2 separate regions of the Homo sapiens genome follow, and region 1 is linked to region 2. The links come from fine-mapping of genetic effects on gene expression. Tissue or cell type: cerebellar hemisphere. Region 2 holds a variant in brackets; the other region holds the start of a gene. All regions are shown on one strand. Distances are from middle to middle.

Region 1 (8,105 bases), 740 kb after region 2:
CAACATTATATGTTAGCACTCGATTAAGATGATATTGGCTAGGTTTCTATGCTATAGAGCTAACTAGTAAGTAATTTGTATTTCTAAACTACTAATAAGCACTAAATATTTTGGGGGAGATACTTTGAGATTGTATCCATTTCCTCATCAAATTTTCACCTACTAGCTTTTCCATCCAATGATGATTCTATCTAAATTAGTTATAACTATAATGGTTGCAAAATAATAATTTTCTGGCTGGGTGTGGTGGCTCATGCCTATTATCCCAGCACTTTGGGAGGCTGAGGTGGATTGTTTGAGCCCAGGAGTTGAGACCAGCCTGGGCAACATGATGAAACCTCATTTCTACAAAAAATACAAAAATAGCCGTGTGGTGGCACACGCCTGAAGTCCCAGCTACTTGGGAGGCTGAGGTGGGAGAATTGCTTGAGCCCAGCAGGTTGAGGCTGCAGTGAACTGTGACTGCACCACTGCACTCCAACCTGGGTGACAGAGCAAGACCCTGTCTCAAAATAATAACAATTTTCTAATTCCATAATTATATTTACATTGATTAGTTGGCATTTACTATAAGTTAGAGCTCTCTCTTCTCTCTCATATTTATTCATTCATGTATTATATAAGTATGGATTCATGAGATTTGATTTTTCAATGAATTATAATCAGTTACTATCATTTTTTATTTTGATCCACAAAATGACCTAGATGTGGACAACTGGAGCCCCATGAAGTTGGCTCCTGTGTTTATTTATTTATTTATTTATTTTGAGAGGAAGTCTCACTCTATTGCCCAGGCTGGAGCACAATGGTGTGATCTCGGCTCACTGCAAGCTCCACCTCCTGGGTTCACGCTATTGTCCTGTCTCAGCCTCCCGAGTAGCTGGGACTACAGGCGCCCGCCACCACACCTGGCTAATTTTTTTGTATTGTCAGTAGAGATGGGACTTCACCGTGTTACCCAGGATGGTCTGGATCTCCTGACCTTGTGATCCACCCGCCTTGGCCTCCCAAAGTGCTGGGATTACAGGCGTGAGCCACTCCTGTGTCCTTTAGACATGTCCTCATAATTATCTGAGGGCTTCCTTACTTTCAGTACAATAGAGTTCCAGGGTCATCTTGTTCTTTCCCTGCCCCAGCCCTGGTTCCTTTTAGTGGAAAAAGGTATTTAGAAACTGAGATCTAAATGCTAGGATGCTCATTGCAACTGGGGTGTCATTGCTCCTGGACTAGGAAATATAACACATTCATACATTTCTACTTCTCAATTTACCTGTCTATCCCTACCTATCTATCATCTGTCACATTCCTATCTTTAAAATCCATAACTTCGGACTAATGCCTTCAATTCCAATCCAGTATCACATTTTCCCCTTTGCATATTTGTAACTCCTTTCTTCAACAGTGAGAAATTGCATTCCCAGTCTCCTTGATACGTTGACTCATTCACTTGATCCTCCTGCATGTAAGCAATCTCCCAGCTGGGCCAGCCTTGTCCCCTTAGCCCCAGTGCCACCCATCACACCATTTGAGTGTTCCAACTCCAAAAGAAGGGAAGGCGAAATAGGAAATTATTTTTGCTCTTCTCTTCCCTATTCCTTATGTGTATATTATTATTTTCCCTTTTGGATATTGCTCACATCCATTTTCTCCTCTTCAGCTTTACTTCTGTGACTAGAATTCAGGCTTGAACAGGTGCTTCTGGTTTTGTTCCTGGTAATCTGTCCTGCACATAGCAGCCCAGATGATCTTTCACAACAAGAATATGACTATGTTATTTCTCTTTAAAGTCTCCAATGGCTCGTCATTTTCTACAAGGTTAAGTAAGCTCTCTAACTTACCCTGACCTGGCCTCTGTCCATACCTCCATTCTCATATTCATGCCTTCCTCCCTTGGACTATCAGTAGAAGTGAATTTTTGTAGTTGTCTGCATATACCATGTTCCATCACTACCATTTCAGTATGATGCTCCCTTGATTTATGAACCTCTTTCCCCAGTGCACCCTTAGAAATCCTGCTCAGGTGTCACTGTATCTAAGAAGCTTTTTTTGACACTTCTTTCCAACCATTAGTTGTTAATTATCCATACTAATTGGATTTCTTATACATAGTTTTATTATTGCCTATGTCACTCTCCACTATATTTGTTTACATGTCTGTCTTCTCTACTAGGTAACCAATTCAGAGGACAGGAATTGATTTTTGCCATTATAGTTTCAGTATCTAGCACAGTTTCTGCCATGTGTTATACACTTAATAAATACTTATTGAGGCTGGGCGCGGTGGCTCACGCCTGTAATCCCAGCACTTTGGGAGGCCGAGGTGGGTGGATCATGAGGTCAGGAGTTCGAGACCAGCCTGACGAACAATGGTGAAACCCTGTCTCTACTAAGAAAAATACAAAAATTAGCTGGGCATGGTGGCACTCACCTGTAATCCCAGCTGCTCAGGAGGCTGAAGCAGGAGAATCGCTTGAACCCGGGAGGCGGAGGTGCAGTGAGCCCAGGTGGAGTGATGATCGCGCCTCATCACTCCAGCCTGGGCGACAGAGCAAGACTCTGTCTGAAACAAAACAAAACAAAACACAACAAAAACTTATTGAACTGAAACATATATGTATGTGTCTGTGTGTATTTCTTTTTCTTTTCTTTTTGCCTTGGAAGAATGTGGAGAAACATCTGAAAAAGGAGCTGTTTTAAGATACCCAGTTTGTGATCATTTATTATGGCAGCCAAAGCAAATAAATACAGCATCAAGCTTATCAGAATCCACTTGCATCATGCTTGCTAATATCCCCATTGTCAAAGCTAGTCACAAGGCTAAGCCTGCTGTCACCATGAGAGGGGACTATACAAGGGCGTGCATTCTGAGAGGTGTGGTTCATTGGAGAAATCAAAGTAACAGTGTGCAGTGAGATTTATTAGATCATTTCATGTATCATAATAAAAGACATTGAATTTCTGATGAAGGATTTCGAATGTGGTAAAATAATTCAGTGGGAACCCAACGCAGTACCTTGAAAGAGAGTTACCTTGGGTCAAGTACAATAATTGGCACTCAGACCTGACACTTCCTTTTCAATAGACTAAATTCACCATGCAGCAATTATTGGAGCTAACAAAGTGTAATCTGTATTGGAAGAGAGTTATTGAAACCAGTATTTAAAAACATTATAGCAGAACTCTTCAAATAAATTCTTATATTAACACAGAAACAAGTATGGCAGAATACTCACGGTTATTTTATTTAAAGTTGGGTTTTTCGAGTACCCTCTATTTTCATGTATTTTGGGAAATTTTAGTAATGAAAGCAAATAGTGAAACAGAATTAAATATCCATTTTATAAAATACGACAAACAAGAGGAGAGCGGCTCTGAATTCCACCCCTGTGGAATTCAGGACTGCCATAGAGCGTATTTTCAAAACTGTTGATTTTGACAAGGCTGACTAGGAGATGCCCTAGAAGCCCCAGGTATGTGTTTCAGTATGATTCTGGCAACGCTGACTTAAAGCACTAAGTAGAATCAGTAGCCTACAGTGGATACTGCCCCATAAGGAGTGACGGGGGAAACGTTGCTGATTAAATAAATGGTCTTTTGAATTGGGCTGATGGTAGATGCTATAACTGAAGTTGCAAACCACACTGGGTTCGTTTGCTAGGGCTGCTGTAATAAATGACCACAAGCTGGGTATCTTAAAACAGCAGAAAGTTACTCTCTCACAGTTCCGGAGGCCAGAGGTCTGAGATCCGGGTGCTGGTGTGTCCGGAATCGGTGGGTTCTTGGTCTCACCGACTTCAAGAATGAAGCCGCGGACCCTCGCGTGAGTGTTACAGTTCTTAAAGGCGGCGTGTCCGGAGTTTGTTCCTTCTGATGTTCAGATGTGTTTGGAGTTTCTTCCTTCTGGTGGGTTCGTGGTCTCGCTGGCTTCAGGAGTGAAGCTGCAGACCTTCGCGGTGAGTGTTACAGCTCATAAAGGCAGTGTGAACCCAAAGAGTGAGCAGTAGCAAGAGTTATTGCAAAGAGCGAAAGGACAAAGCCTCCACAGTGTGGAAGGGGACCCGAGCGCGTTGCCACTGCTGGCTCGGGCAGCCTGCTTATATTCTCTTATCTGGCCCAACCCACATCCTGCTGATTGGTAGAGCCAATGGTCTGTTTTGACAGGGCGCTGATTGGTGCGTTTACAATCCCTGAGCTAGACACAAAGGTTCTCCACGTCCCCACCAAACTAGCTAGATACCGAGTGTCCACACAAAGGTTCTCCAAGTCCCCACCAGAGTAGCAAGATACAGAGTGTCCATTGGTGCATTCACAAACCCTGAGCTAGACACAGGGTGCTGATTGGTGTGTTTACAAACCTTGAGCTAGATACAGAGTGCCCATTGGTGTATTTACAATCCCTGAGCTACACATAAAGGTTCTCCACGTCCCCACCAGACTCAGGAGCCCAGCTGGCTTCACCCAGTGGATCCCCCACCGGGGCTGCAGGTGGAGCTGCCTGCCAGTGCGGTGCCGTGTGCCTGCACTCCTCAGCCCTTGGGTGGTCGATGGGACTGGGCTCCGCGGAGCAGGGGGTGGCGCTTGTCGGGGAGACTCCGGCTGCACAGGAGCCCACGGAGGTGGGGGAGGCTCAGGCATGGCGGGCTGCAGGTCCCGAGCCCTGCCCCGCGGGAAGGCAGCTAAAGCCTGGCGAGAAATTGAGCACAGCAGCTGCTGGCCCAGGTGATAAGCCCTTCACTGCTCGGGCTGGTGGGGCCGGCCTGCCGCTCCGAGTGCTGGGTCCGCCGAGCCCACGCCCACCCGGAACTCGCGCTGGCCCGGAAGCACCGCGCGCAGCCCCTGTTCCCGCCCGCGCCTCTCCCTCCACACCTCCCTGCAAGCTGAGGGAGCCGGCTCCGGCCTTGGCCAGCCCAGCAAGGGGCTCCCACAGTGCAGCGGTGGGCTAAAGGGCTCCTCAAGTGCCGCCAAAGTGGGAGCCCAGGCAGAGGAGGCGCCGAGAGCGAGCAGGGCTGTGAGGACTGCCAGCACGCTGTCACCTCTCACTGGCAGGGTTAGGTTTTTCTGGGGGCTGTGAGAGAGAAACCAGTCTGTGCGTCTCTTTGGCATTCCTGGGCATCCCTCCAGGCTCCGCCTGTGCTGTCACACTGAGTTCCCCCTGTGTGTCTGCTTTCTCCTCTTATAAGTGATATAGGAGTTAAGAAGAAATTATTTAGGCAGATAGTGAGGGTAAGGAAGTCCTCAGTAAGGTTTTCCTTTTAATGAAAAGCAGCCCTCAAATCGTTTTCTTTTCTTACAATGAGCAGCCTGTAAAATCAAGCTGCAGACATAGACAAGCAAGCTAGAAGCTTGCACGGGTGAATGCCAGCAGCTGTGCCAATAGGAAAAGGCCACCTGGGACTAGGCATGTCCAACTTCGTATACTTGGTCATCATTTCCTACATTCTCACACAGAAGAGAGCACTCAAAAAATAGTTTTGAGAATCATTTGCTAATGATTTAATACTATTATAAGGGAATAAAAGACTTTTCTTTTAAATGAGTGCTTAAAGGCGATTGGAAGCCCTGCTAAAGTTCAGGGGTGAATGCCTTATTATTTTTTTATATTTGGGGGCAAGGGCTTTCCAGTGAAGACTGGAAAACCTGCTAGACAGATTCTAAAAGAGCTGTAACACTGGGTGAATGCTGTAGAAGCACATAGTGTTAGTAAGGTGTGGGTCAGATACGGCTTTAGAGAATGTAGCAACTGAAAGCCCAGATGGGAAGCTCCGTAGGCAGCTGGATAAGCTAATATTTCTAAATAATATGTTCAGAGATTCGGACTGAATGCAATTGCAACCTTCTCCACCAGTCAGCAGTGAGTTCTGAAGTTACAGAAGTGTGATGAATTGCGGTCAATATGGGTTCTACCTTCACTTTGGAGTCAGTCAGTGACCTTAAAATACCTGCCCAGCTGAATTTTCTTAGAGTGCTTCATTTCCTGTGGGCCCTTTTACTCCAAATTCCAGATGATGGCTTTTAGTCTGTGGGGCCGCTTTAAGAGGCAGAAATCTGATCAGAACTACTAGAAGGCTGTGAAGGTGCTGCTGTGTGGACAGGCAGGGCAGAGTGCTCAAGGCTTTCCAATGCTCCTGCAATGGATCCTCCCTACCCAGCCCACAACCTGGCAGCTCAGGGGCCAACTGTTCTCTGTTGCTTTCTACTATCATGAACACAGGAAATGGGGGTGGGTAGCTTCTGGTTTCTGATTGAGGGAGTAGAAAGTGATGCTGCAGGGATCAAAAGCAGAGAAGCTTTTAAGCCATTTGAGAAACTGTGTCCGAAGGCAAGCGGATTTTAGCAGTAGCAGCAGCAGACCCCAGAAAAATTTGAAGAAGCATTAGTTTGTGCACTGTTAATGCCACTCTCTCATGAATGAAGAGAAGAAGGCAGGCCTAATGAAGGCTTTCCTAATGAAGGCTGAAGGCAGGCCGCTATTTGCCAAAGGTGCTGAGTGGCAGGGGGAGGAAGGGAAGGAAGCTGTGCAGTGTGTACTGCTTGCTTATCAGGAATCACGTCATTTCCTGTGTAAAGGGGCTGTGTGGTCTCCAGGGGCACTGGGAAGCCTTGGATGGCATGATTTCACCTTCTTCTTGCTCATCATTGAGGAGCTCTCATTAGTTAATGCTAGCCCTATTCATTTCATCATACATCTATTGTGTTCATACTGTGTTCTGAGCTCCGTGTTTAATCTTCGCAGGCTCATGAAGAGGAGTTAAGGATACTTTTGTCTTGAAAATGCTAACAGTCCCTCATGTGCTTGGGACCAGGGCTGCTGGAAAACCCACTAAGCAGCACACGGGAAACTAGAAAAGCAGAGGAACAAAGTTTTGGGGTTTTTGGGAGAGGGGGTGAAGAATGACATATTTTATTCCAAAAGCATAAAATATTTAATAGTGGAAACTATGAATGATACTGTTTAATTTTTAGGAGGCCAAAATATTTTAAGATTTATAAGTTTTAAGCTGGCCTTGGAGTGAGGGCAGAAAATATGTACACAAACAACTCTAATACAAGACTGAATGTGATGTATACCATAACAGAGCACCAAAGTAATAATGAATTGGGAGACAGAAGAACCACAATGTCTTTATAAAGTGGTATTTGAAGTGGACTTTGATGAACAGATAGGCAGGGTTGGAGTGCATGATCACTAAATCCATTCAAACCTTCTAACATTGACTTTTTATGGTGTGGGGGTGGGTGGGATGGGCACGGATTCTCCATGCAAAGGGACTATCTCGGGAACAGACAGTCACGGGGGCGGGGGGACTAAGCTTTCCAGTGTGCCTGGAGAAAAAGGCACATGTGAGGTCATGGATCTCAGGGCCCAGGCTAGTCTAGTTTGGCTGTAGCAGGAAGTGTTCCTCACTCTGCTCAGACCCAGGTACTGCTTCAAACCAGAAAGTCTGGAGAGTGGGCTCCTTCCTCCCCTAATGGGGCAATTTGCCCAAGGACAAAGTCCAGGCTTGCTCCTCCGTATCAGACCCTGCTCTGGGTAGAGGGAAACCACCACATGCTTTCTTGTTTGATGTGCTGAGTGCTCAACTGAGCTGTCTGTGCCCCTACACTGCTTCTGTATACTTAGAGTCAACCTTTAGAGGATGATATTTCAACATTCTGCATGGAGTTTTCTCTGTAAAGTACAATGAGTTTGTGACTGACCAGAACTACAGACATTCCCTTTTGTTTGTGAGCTGCATGACCAATGTGTTTGGCCTCATTAAAAATGAACTGGGCAAGCTGGGCATGGTAGCAACTCAGGAGGCTGAGGTGGGAGTCTCACTGAGCTCAGGAGTTCGAGTCCAGCCTGGGCAACATAGCGAGACCCTGTCTCTAAAAAATATAATAATATAAAATTTTGAAATAAGAATGAACTGGTCAAATAGGAAAGTTTTCAAGGACATCAACTGGTCTTTTCTTGCACAGAGGAGATTCGCAGGATGAAAATACTCTGAGGCTTCTTCCCACTGCAGGGCACAGACCCGAGTTAAGTGTGGCCTGGCCCTCAGCACTTCCCAGGTGCCCTTGGTGCATCCTGGTGCTGACCTGTGCCCCTCCACACTCCTGCT
Region 2 (8,105 bases):
TTGAGCTAATTCCTCTAATAAATCCCCTCTCATCTGTCTGTCTGTCTGTCTGTCTGTCTGTCTATCTATCTATCTATCTATCTATCTATCTATCTATCTATCTATCTACCTATGCATCCATTGATCCTGTTGATTCTTTCTCTCTGGAGAAGCCTTACTAATACAGTCTCTTTTTTCATCTTCCCTGATATCATTCTCTTTTCTTCCTTCACCAGAAGAAACTACTATCACAATTTGAGTTTCTCTGATTTCATGTATTCTTTTTTTTTTCTGAGACAGAGTCTCGCTCTGTTGCCCACACTGGAGTGCAGTGGTGCAATCTCAGCTCACTGCAACTTCCACCTCCTGGGTTCCAGCGATTCTCTTGCCTCAGCCTCCTGAGTAGCTGGGGTTACAGGAACACACCACCATGCCCAGCTAATTTTTTTGTATTTTTAGTAGAGACAGGGTTTCGCCATGTTGGCCAGGCTGGTCTCGAACTCCTGACCTCAAGTCATCTGCCTGACTCGGCCTCCCAAAGTGCTGGGATTACAGGCGACTTCATATATTCTTTTACTCTTTTTTTTTTTTTTTTTTTTTGAGACAGAGTCTGGCTCTGTTGCCAGGCTGGAGTGCAGTGGCACAATCTCAGCTCACTGCAACCTCCGCCTGCCGGGTTCAAGTGATTCTCCTGCCTCAGCCTCCCGAGTAGCTGGGACTACAGGCACGTGCCACCATGCCCAGCTAATTTTTGTATTTTCAGTAGAGACAGGGTTTCACCATGTTGGCCAGGATGGTCTCCATCTCTTGACCTTGTGATCCACCCACCTCGGCCTTCCAAAGTGCTGGGATTACAGGTGTGAGCCACCGTGCCCGGCCTTACTCATGTTTTTATACTTCTATTACATAACATGTAGGTAGAAACAATATACAATTGCTTTTTCTGTGTGTTTTAAATATTTTTATTCAGTATGTCATACTACATGTATCCCTCTAAAACATGCATGTGCACGCGTGCACAAACACACACAAATGCTTATATATATCCAGTTCATTCATTTTAATGGCTGCACTACATTCTATCAATGAATACACCTCAATTTACGTAGCCCCGTATTGATGAACATTCAGTTTTTCCCCAATTTAGAGCTACTAAAAACGATGCTGCAAGACAATATTTGTGCTTGTCCTTTTGCACACGTGGAAGTTTCTATACGGTGTGAAATTTAGAGTAGAATTGTCAGAGGCGTGTGAACCAGAGCAACTCCATCTTAAATAGAAGCTGGGTAAAATGAGCTGAAACTTACTGGAATGCATTCCCAGAAGGTTAAGGCATTCTAAGTTACAGGATGAGATAGGAAGTCAGCACAAAATACAGGTCATAAAGACCTTGCTGATAAAACAGTTTGCAGTAAGGCCGGGCGCGGTGGCTCACTCCTGTAATCCGAGCACTTTGGAAGGCCGAGCACTTTGGAAGGCCGAGCACTTTGGGAGACCTCACCTGAGGTCGGGAGTTGGAGACCAGCCCGACCAACATGGAGAAACCCCGTTTCTACTAAAAATACAAAATTAGCCAGGAGTGGTGGCGCATGCCTGTAATCCCAGCTACTCCGGAGGCTGAGGCAGGAGAATCGCTTGAACCCGGAAGGCGGAGGTTGCGGTGAGCCGAGATCGCTCCATTGCACTCCAGCCTGGGCAACAAGAGCGAAACTCCGTCTCAAAACAAACAAACAAACAAACACAGCTTGCGGTAAAAGAGCCAGCCAAAACCCACCAAAACCAAAATGGCAACGAGAGTGACCTCTGCTCGTCCTCACTGCTACAGTCCCACCAGCGCCATGACAGTTTACAAATGCCATGGCAGCGTCAGGAAGTGACCCTAATGTAGTCTAAAAACGGGAGGCATGAATAATCCACCCCTTGTTTAGCATAACCTCAAAAATAACCATAAAAGCAGGCAACCAGCAGCCCTCTGGGCTGCTCTATGGAGTAGCCATTCTTTTATTTCTTTACTTTCTTGATAAACTTGCTTTCACTTTGCACTGCGAACTCGCCCTGAATTCTTTGTTGCGCGAGATCCAAGAACCCTCTCTTGGGGTCTAGATCGGGACCCCTTCCTTGTAACATATTTCTGGCAACCCAGATGGGACTATAGTGCAGAAACCCTGACCCAATGGCTACCTTTGGGGTAGTGTTGTGGTCCTGTAACAGAATTGTGGGTCACGTGGTATACTGGATGTTTTCCATTTGCTCCTCTGATCTTCTCTTTCTTCCTCCCTGCATTGGCCCCAGGAAGCTGACCTTTATGAACTGCTAGCCATGAATTTCCTTTCCCTCTGACTTCTTGTTGGATTTGGCCTCTGGAAGATGCCAGCAGGAAAGCAGAGGGTGGGAGGAGAGTGTGATCTGGGCATTTATTCTCCTGGCTCCCGTCCTGCTGGGCCTCTGTGGGTTGGCTGCATTCCTCCACCAAAGGCCTCCTGTCAAGGAGCTCTCCTACTGCCCCTGCTATTCTCCCTGTGTTCTGCAGTTCTGATCACCATTCCCTCTCTTTGCCTCTTCAGGCCTGGGGGCAGCAATGAAGTCCCCCAGGCTCCCCTGCTATTGCTACCCTTGTTGCTTTTTAAGGTTGCCATTAACCCTGCCCACATTTTGGTAAATAGTTCTTTTATTGAATTGTCCTCAATTACCCAGGGTGAGAGCTCATTCTGTTTCCTGCCAAGCATTGACTAGAACATATCGTATGTGTGTTTTCAACTTTACTAGACACTGATAAATCAAACTAACCTTCCAGTCTCAATCTCTTCCAGGAAACTTGCTGATGAAATCTTAGATATTTTCCAACGCTACTAAAATATGATTTTCACGCTTTTTCCCATCTGAAATCTCTGCTCTGGTCAGATTGGCCTAGTCACTGGTCCATGAGCATGGCTTTGCTGTTAGGTCTTCTTGAATAGAATAGTCTTCCTTCCATTTTTCCCATTTTTTCATACTGTGATCATCCAAGCCCCTCCACTTACCCTCACCCTCTCTCAGCTTCCTATGAAGGAATCTTACCTGCTTCATAAAATCATTCAAACTGCTGAGGGGACCGATGCTTAGCACTTACCGCCTCCCACCGCCCCCACTCCCTCGGCACTCTGCTTCTCTAAATTTCTTGTATGGTTGCTTTTCATTATTAATGAGTTTTTCTTATGTATATGTCAAATGTCTTCCATTACACTTTTCTTTAATGAAACTTTCGTGCTCGTTCTCTCTGTATATATTTTTAGTATTCCCAATATTACCAAAGTTACCTTTTTAGTATTCACCCATATTGCCTAACTGCTGTTTACAGACAGGTGCTCAATTAGTATTTTAAATGAAGCACTCAATCAATTTACTGCACTAACCTCAATAACCAAGACTTAGTAATAACATATAATCTGACAACCTGAAATCTTCTCTGCAGTTCTAAATAGATGAAACTTTCATTTTCATGTCACTTTAATTTATTATGTCACATGTATCCTGTTAAATGGCCTGTGTGTCTGAGTTCAGAGAAGTATACATTTTAGTAGTGAATGAACTAATGCCTATGAATTTACTGTAGGTATAAAACTTCCATTAAAATAAAAATATTCATATTCTCATTGGAAAACAATTATTAGCAATGAAAACAATGGTGATACCCAATCAGGTTAGTTAATAGGAATCAAGGGCCTTCTATTTTCCACTTACCCCAATGTGAAAATCTGAGGTTGCTTTTTGGACTTTGAAGAATCTGTTAGTATCTGCAGGCATCCTAATGGAAATTGACACAAAATAAATGCATCCATACTATTTTTAACTCCACAGGGGGAGAAAAGGCAAGGAGAAATTAAGTTTCTCTGCATGAAAATAGGAAGAGAAGTAGTTTTCAGGAGTTTGCCTAAGCAAAAAGAAAAAAAAAATTAGTCCCTCAACTTTCATAGCAACTCCCAAATGCAACAAAAATCACCACCACCACCAATCTCTATATAACGTATACTCAGGATACAAAATATCCTGGGTAATTTTCTCCCTTTTTTAACATTGGACTTTAAGTCTTTGGAGTGCAGTGGCGCAATCTTGGCTCACTGCAAGCTCCGCCTCCTGGGTTCACGTCACTCTCCTGGCTCAGCCTCCCGAGTAGCTGGGACTACAGGCGCCTGCCACCACGCCCGGCTAATTTTTTGTGCTTTTAGTAGAGACGGGGTTTCACCGTGTTAGCCAGGATGGTCTCGATCTCCTGACCTCGTGATCCGCCCGCCTCGGCCTCCCAAAGTGCTGGGATTACAGGCGTGAGCCACCGCGCCCGGCCTCTTTTTTTTTTTTTTTTAAATGAATCTGTGAGAAGCACCGCAATTGCATTTGTAAGAAGGTACTCAGAGTAGCAAGTAGATTCTAAAGGGGTGAGCCTGGAGCGGTGGCTCACTCCTTTAATCCCAACACTTTGGGGGGCCGAGGCGGGTGGATCACCTGAGGTCGGGAGTTTGAGACCAGCCTGGCCAACTTGGTGAAAACCCGTCTCTACTAAAAAAAATACAAAAATTAGCTGGGTGTGGTCGCGGGCTCCTGTAATCCCAGCTATTCAGGAGGCTGAGACAGGAGAATCGCTTGAATCCAGGAGGCACAGAGGTTGCAGTGAGCTGAGATCGCACGACTGCACTCCAGCCAGAGGCGACAGAGTGAGACTCTGTCTCAAAAAAAAAAAAAAAAGAAAAGAAAAGAAAAGAAAAGCGGCCGGGCAAAGTGGCTCACGCCTGTAATCCCAGCACTTTGGGAGGCCGAGGCGGGCAGATTACGAGGTCA[G/A]GAGATCCAGACCATCCTGGCTAACACGGTGAAACCCCATCTCTACTAAAAATACAAAAACAAAATTAGCCGGGCGCGGTGGTGGGCGCCTGTAGTCCCAGCTACTTGGGAGGCTGAGGCAGGAGAATGGCGTGAACCCGGGAGGCGGAGCTTGCAGTGAGCCGAGATCGCGCCACTGCACTCCAGCCTGGGCGACAGAGCGAGACTCCGTCTCAAAAAGAAAAAAAAAAGAAAAAGAAAAAGAAAAAAGAAAAGCACCAGCTCAAAGAAAAAAATAGGGGATTATCATTACACATAGCAAGAAGTCTGAAGACAGGTAATTCTGGAATTGGTTAATTAGTTGCAAAATGATGTTGATAACCCAGATGCTTCTCAACGTTCTGCTTTGGCATCCTCAATGTGTTGCGTTTTGTGCTCAGATGTAAGCCTTCATTCTAACAAAATGGCTGTCACAGCTTCAACCATTCACATCTTCAGGAAAACTGTACTCAAAGGCAAGAAGGGCAATCTCTTCTTGTGCTTCTTTTTTTTAAGACAGGGTCTCATTCTATCGCCCAGGTTGGAGTGCAGTGGCACTATCTCCACTCACTGCAACCTCAGCCTCCCAGGTTCTAGCCATCCTCCTGCCTCAGCCTCACGAGTAGCTGGGATTACAGGCGCGTGCCACCACACCCAACTAATTTTTGTATTTTCAATAGAGACGAGGTTTCGCCATGTTGGCCAGGCTGGCTCGAACTCTTGACCTCAAATGATCCACCTGCCTCGGCTTCCCAAAGTGCTGGGATTACAGGCATAAGCCACCGCGCCCAGCTTATAAATACTCTTTATGAATAACAGAGTGCTAGACAGGATAAAAGAAAGATTACAAGAGGTTAAAGAGAGAATGAATGGTGAGAAAATGAAAGTAGTCAATAAAAACAATTTTTATTTTTGTATTTTTTTTGAGACAGAGTCTTGCTCTGTCACCCAGGCTGGAGTGCAGTGGTGCGATCTCGGCTCACTGCAACATCTGCCTCCTGGGTTCAAGCGATTCTCCTGTCTCAGCCTCCAGAGTAGCTGGGATTACAGGCGCGCACCACCACGCCCGCCTGATTTTTGTATTTTTAGTAGAGACGGGGTTTTGCCACGTTGGCCAGGCTGGTCTCGAACTCCTGACCCCAGGTGATCCACCTGCCTCGGCCTCCTAGAGTGCTGGGATTACAGGCGTGAGCCACCACGCCCGGCCACAAACAATTTTTGAAGTTGTAAGAAAAAGCCAGAAGTAGAGTGAGGGTTAAGGTAGCTCTGATGAGGGAAGGTGTTATTTTGTCCTCCCCACCCATAGCACAGATCTGAAAATGTCCAAAGGAGAATGAGTCCCTGAAAGGAGATTGAGGGATGTTGTTAGCAAGGAAAGAGGCAAGCCTTGAATCAAGGACAGGCAAGTTATCCGTTGATGAGAGAGAGGTGGAGTGGGTTCTGGAGTGGTGGTCCTAGAAGCATTGTCTCCAGACCAGCAGCACCACCTAGGAACTTGTTAGACATGCAGATTCCCAGGCCACATCTCAAACCTACTGAATCAGATCTCTGAGGATGGGACTCAGCAATCTCTGTGTTAACAAGCCCTACAGGTGATTCTGACGTACACTAAAGTTTGACAATAAATGTGCCAGGGAATTGTTTATATTGTACCTAACTGTAATGTGTGCCTTTGCAATTTAAACTATTTTCTTGGGTCAGGAAATGTTTCCTGTTTTGTTCTTCCACCTGTGGGCTCAGGTAGACTCAGACACTGAGGCCCTTCTAGCCCTGAGGAGGGTGTACAGAACTCTAGACATACTAGGAGGCTTGAGTGTTGCCTCTTTGTTGCTATTCTTGCTGGGCTGGTTACCTACATTTCTTTTTTTCTTGCCCAGGCTCTTATTGAGTTCATAGACAAAGGGCCACCGATTTTTTTTTTGTCCTGTTAATGACTCTCCATTGCAAACACATGAAAGCCTGCACCCCTAAGCATGGAAAGCCAAGCCTTCTATGATCTCAACTCTGCTCACTTCTTGAGTCTTCTACCTTGCTGCCCTGAGGGGAACCTTTTCTCTCTGGCAAGAGATCTGTGGAAGGGAACTGAGAAAAATTCTTACAGAGTCCTAGCACCATTTGATCTGCTTGCATAGCTTTATTACTTGCCTACTACATGCCAGGAATTCTACAACAGACTGGGATGAAAAGATGCCTTACAAAGAAGCATAACATATTCTGGAAGAGACAGCCTGTTTTCATTCAGAATGCTATCACAGAATACCATAGAGCAAGTGGCTTAAAGAATAAACATTTTAAACAGCAAGCATGTATTTCTCACAGTTCTAGAGACTGGGAAGTCCAAGATTAGGTGGCTGACAGATCTGGTGTCTTGTGAGGGCACTCTTTCTAGTTTGTAGATGGCTATCTTCTCATTGTATCCTCATATGGGAGAGAAAAAAATATCACCTCTCTCGTGTCTCTTCTTATAAGGAAACTAATACCATTTGTTTTTTTTTGTTGTTGTTGTTGTTTGTTTTTGATTTTTTTTTTTTTTAGACAGTCTCGTTCTGTCACCAGGCTGGAGTGCAGTGGCACAATCTCGGCTCACTGTAACGTCTGCCTCCCGGATTCAAGCGATTCTCCTGCCTCAGCCTCTCGAGTAGCTGGGACTACAGGTGTGAGCCACTACACCCAGCTAATTTTCATATTTTTAGTAGAGACGAGGTTTCACCATGTTGGCCAGGATGGTCTCGATCTTTTGACCTCATGATCCGTCTGCCTTGGCCTCCCAAAGTGCTGGGGTTATAGGCATCAGCCACTGCACCCACAGTAGATATCCACAAATGGTATCTACTGATACCATTTGTAAGGGCTCCCCCTTATGACCTAATCACGTTATAAAGATGCCACCTCCTACTACCCTCACCTTCAGTGTTAGTATTTTAACATATAATTGTTGGGGGGCACAAACATTCAGTTCACAATACAGTCAAAGAAACAAATGCTTTGGTGATGGCTTCGGCAGCACATATACAAAAATTGGAATGATACAAGATTAGCATGCCCCCTGCTTAAGGATGACACACAAATTCGTGAAGCATTCCTTTTTTTTTTTTTCTGTTGCTCAGGCTGGAGTGCAGTGGCGTGATCTCGGCTCACTGCAACCTCCACCTCCTGGGTTCAAACAATTCTCCTGCTTCAGCCTTAGCTGGGATTACAGGCACATGCCACCATGCCTGGCTAATTTTAGTACAGAAGGGGTTTCACCATGTTGGTCAGGCTGGTCTCAAACTCCTGACCTCATGATCTGCCCGCCT

What was found. PIP is the estimated chance that this variant, and not a neighbour inherited with it, causes the effect.
Region 1: it holds the start of LINC01252, and the variant in region 2 is fine-mapped to the expression of LINC01252 in cerebellar hemisphere (GTEx, PIP 0.96).

Annotation. Positions count from the first base shown.
Region 1 is chr12:11,544,045-11,552,149 of GRCh38, reverse strand. It overlaps LINC01252 (long intergenic non-protein coding RNA 1252), which reads right to left and starts at 4,120. Exons shown (of 8, transcript NR_033890.1): 1 at 3,790-4,120; 2 at 2,429-2,560. All of the region lies in intron 2 of LOC124902877 (a long non-coding RNA gene), which reads left to right. It also overlaps the pseudogene RNU7-60P. RefSeq lists an enhancer at 7,585-7,644.
Region 2 is chr12:12,289,022-12,297,126 of GRCh38, reverse strand. It overlaps the pseudogene RNU6-318P. Among named protein-coding and RNA genes, the nearest start is that of LRP6, 26 kb to the right of the region's middle. The variant G/A (reference allele first, on the strand shown) is at 4,792.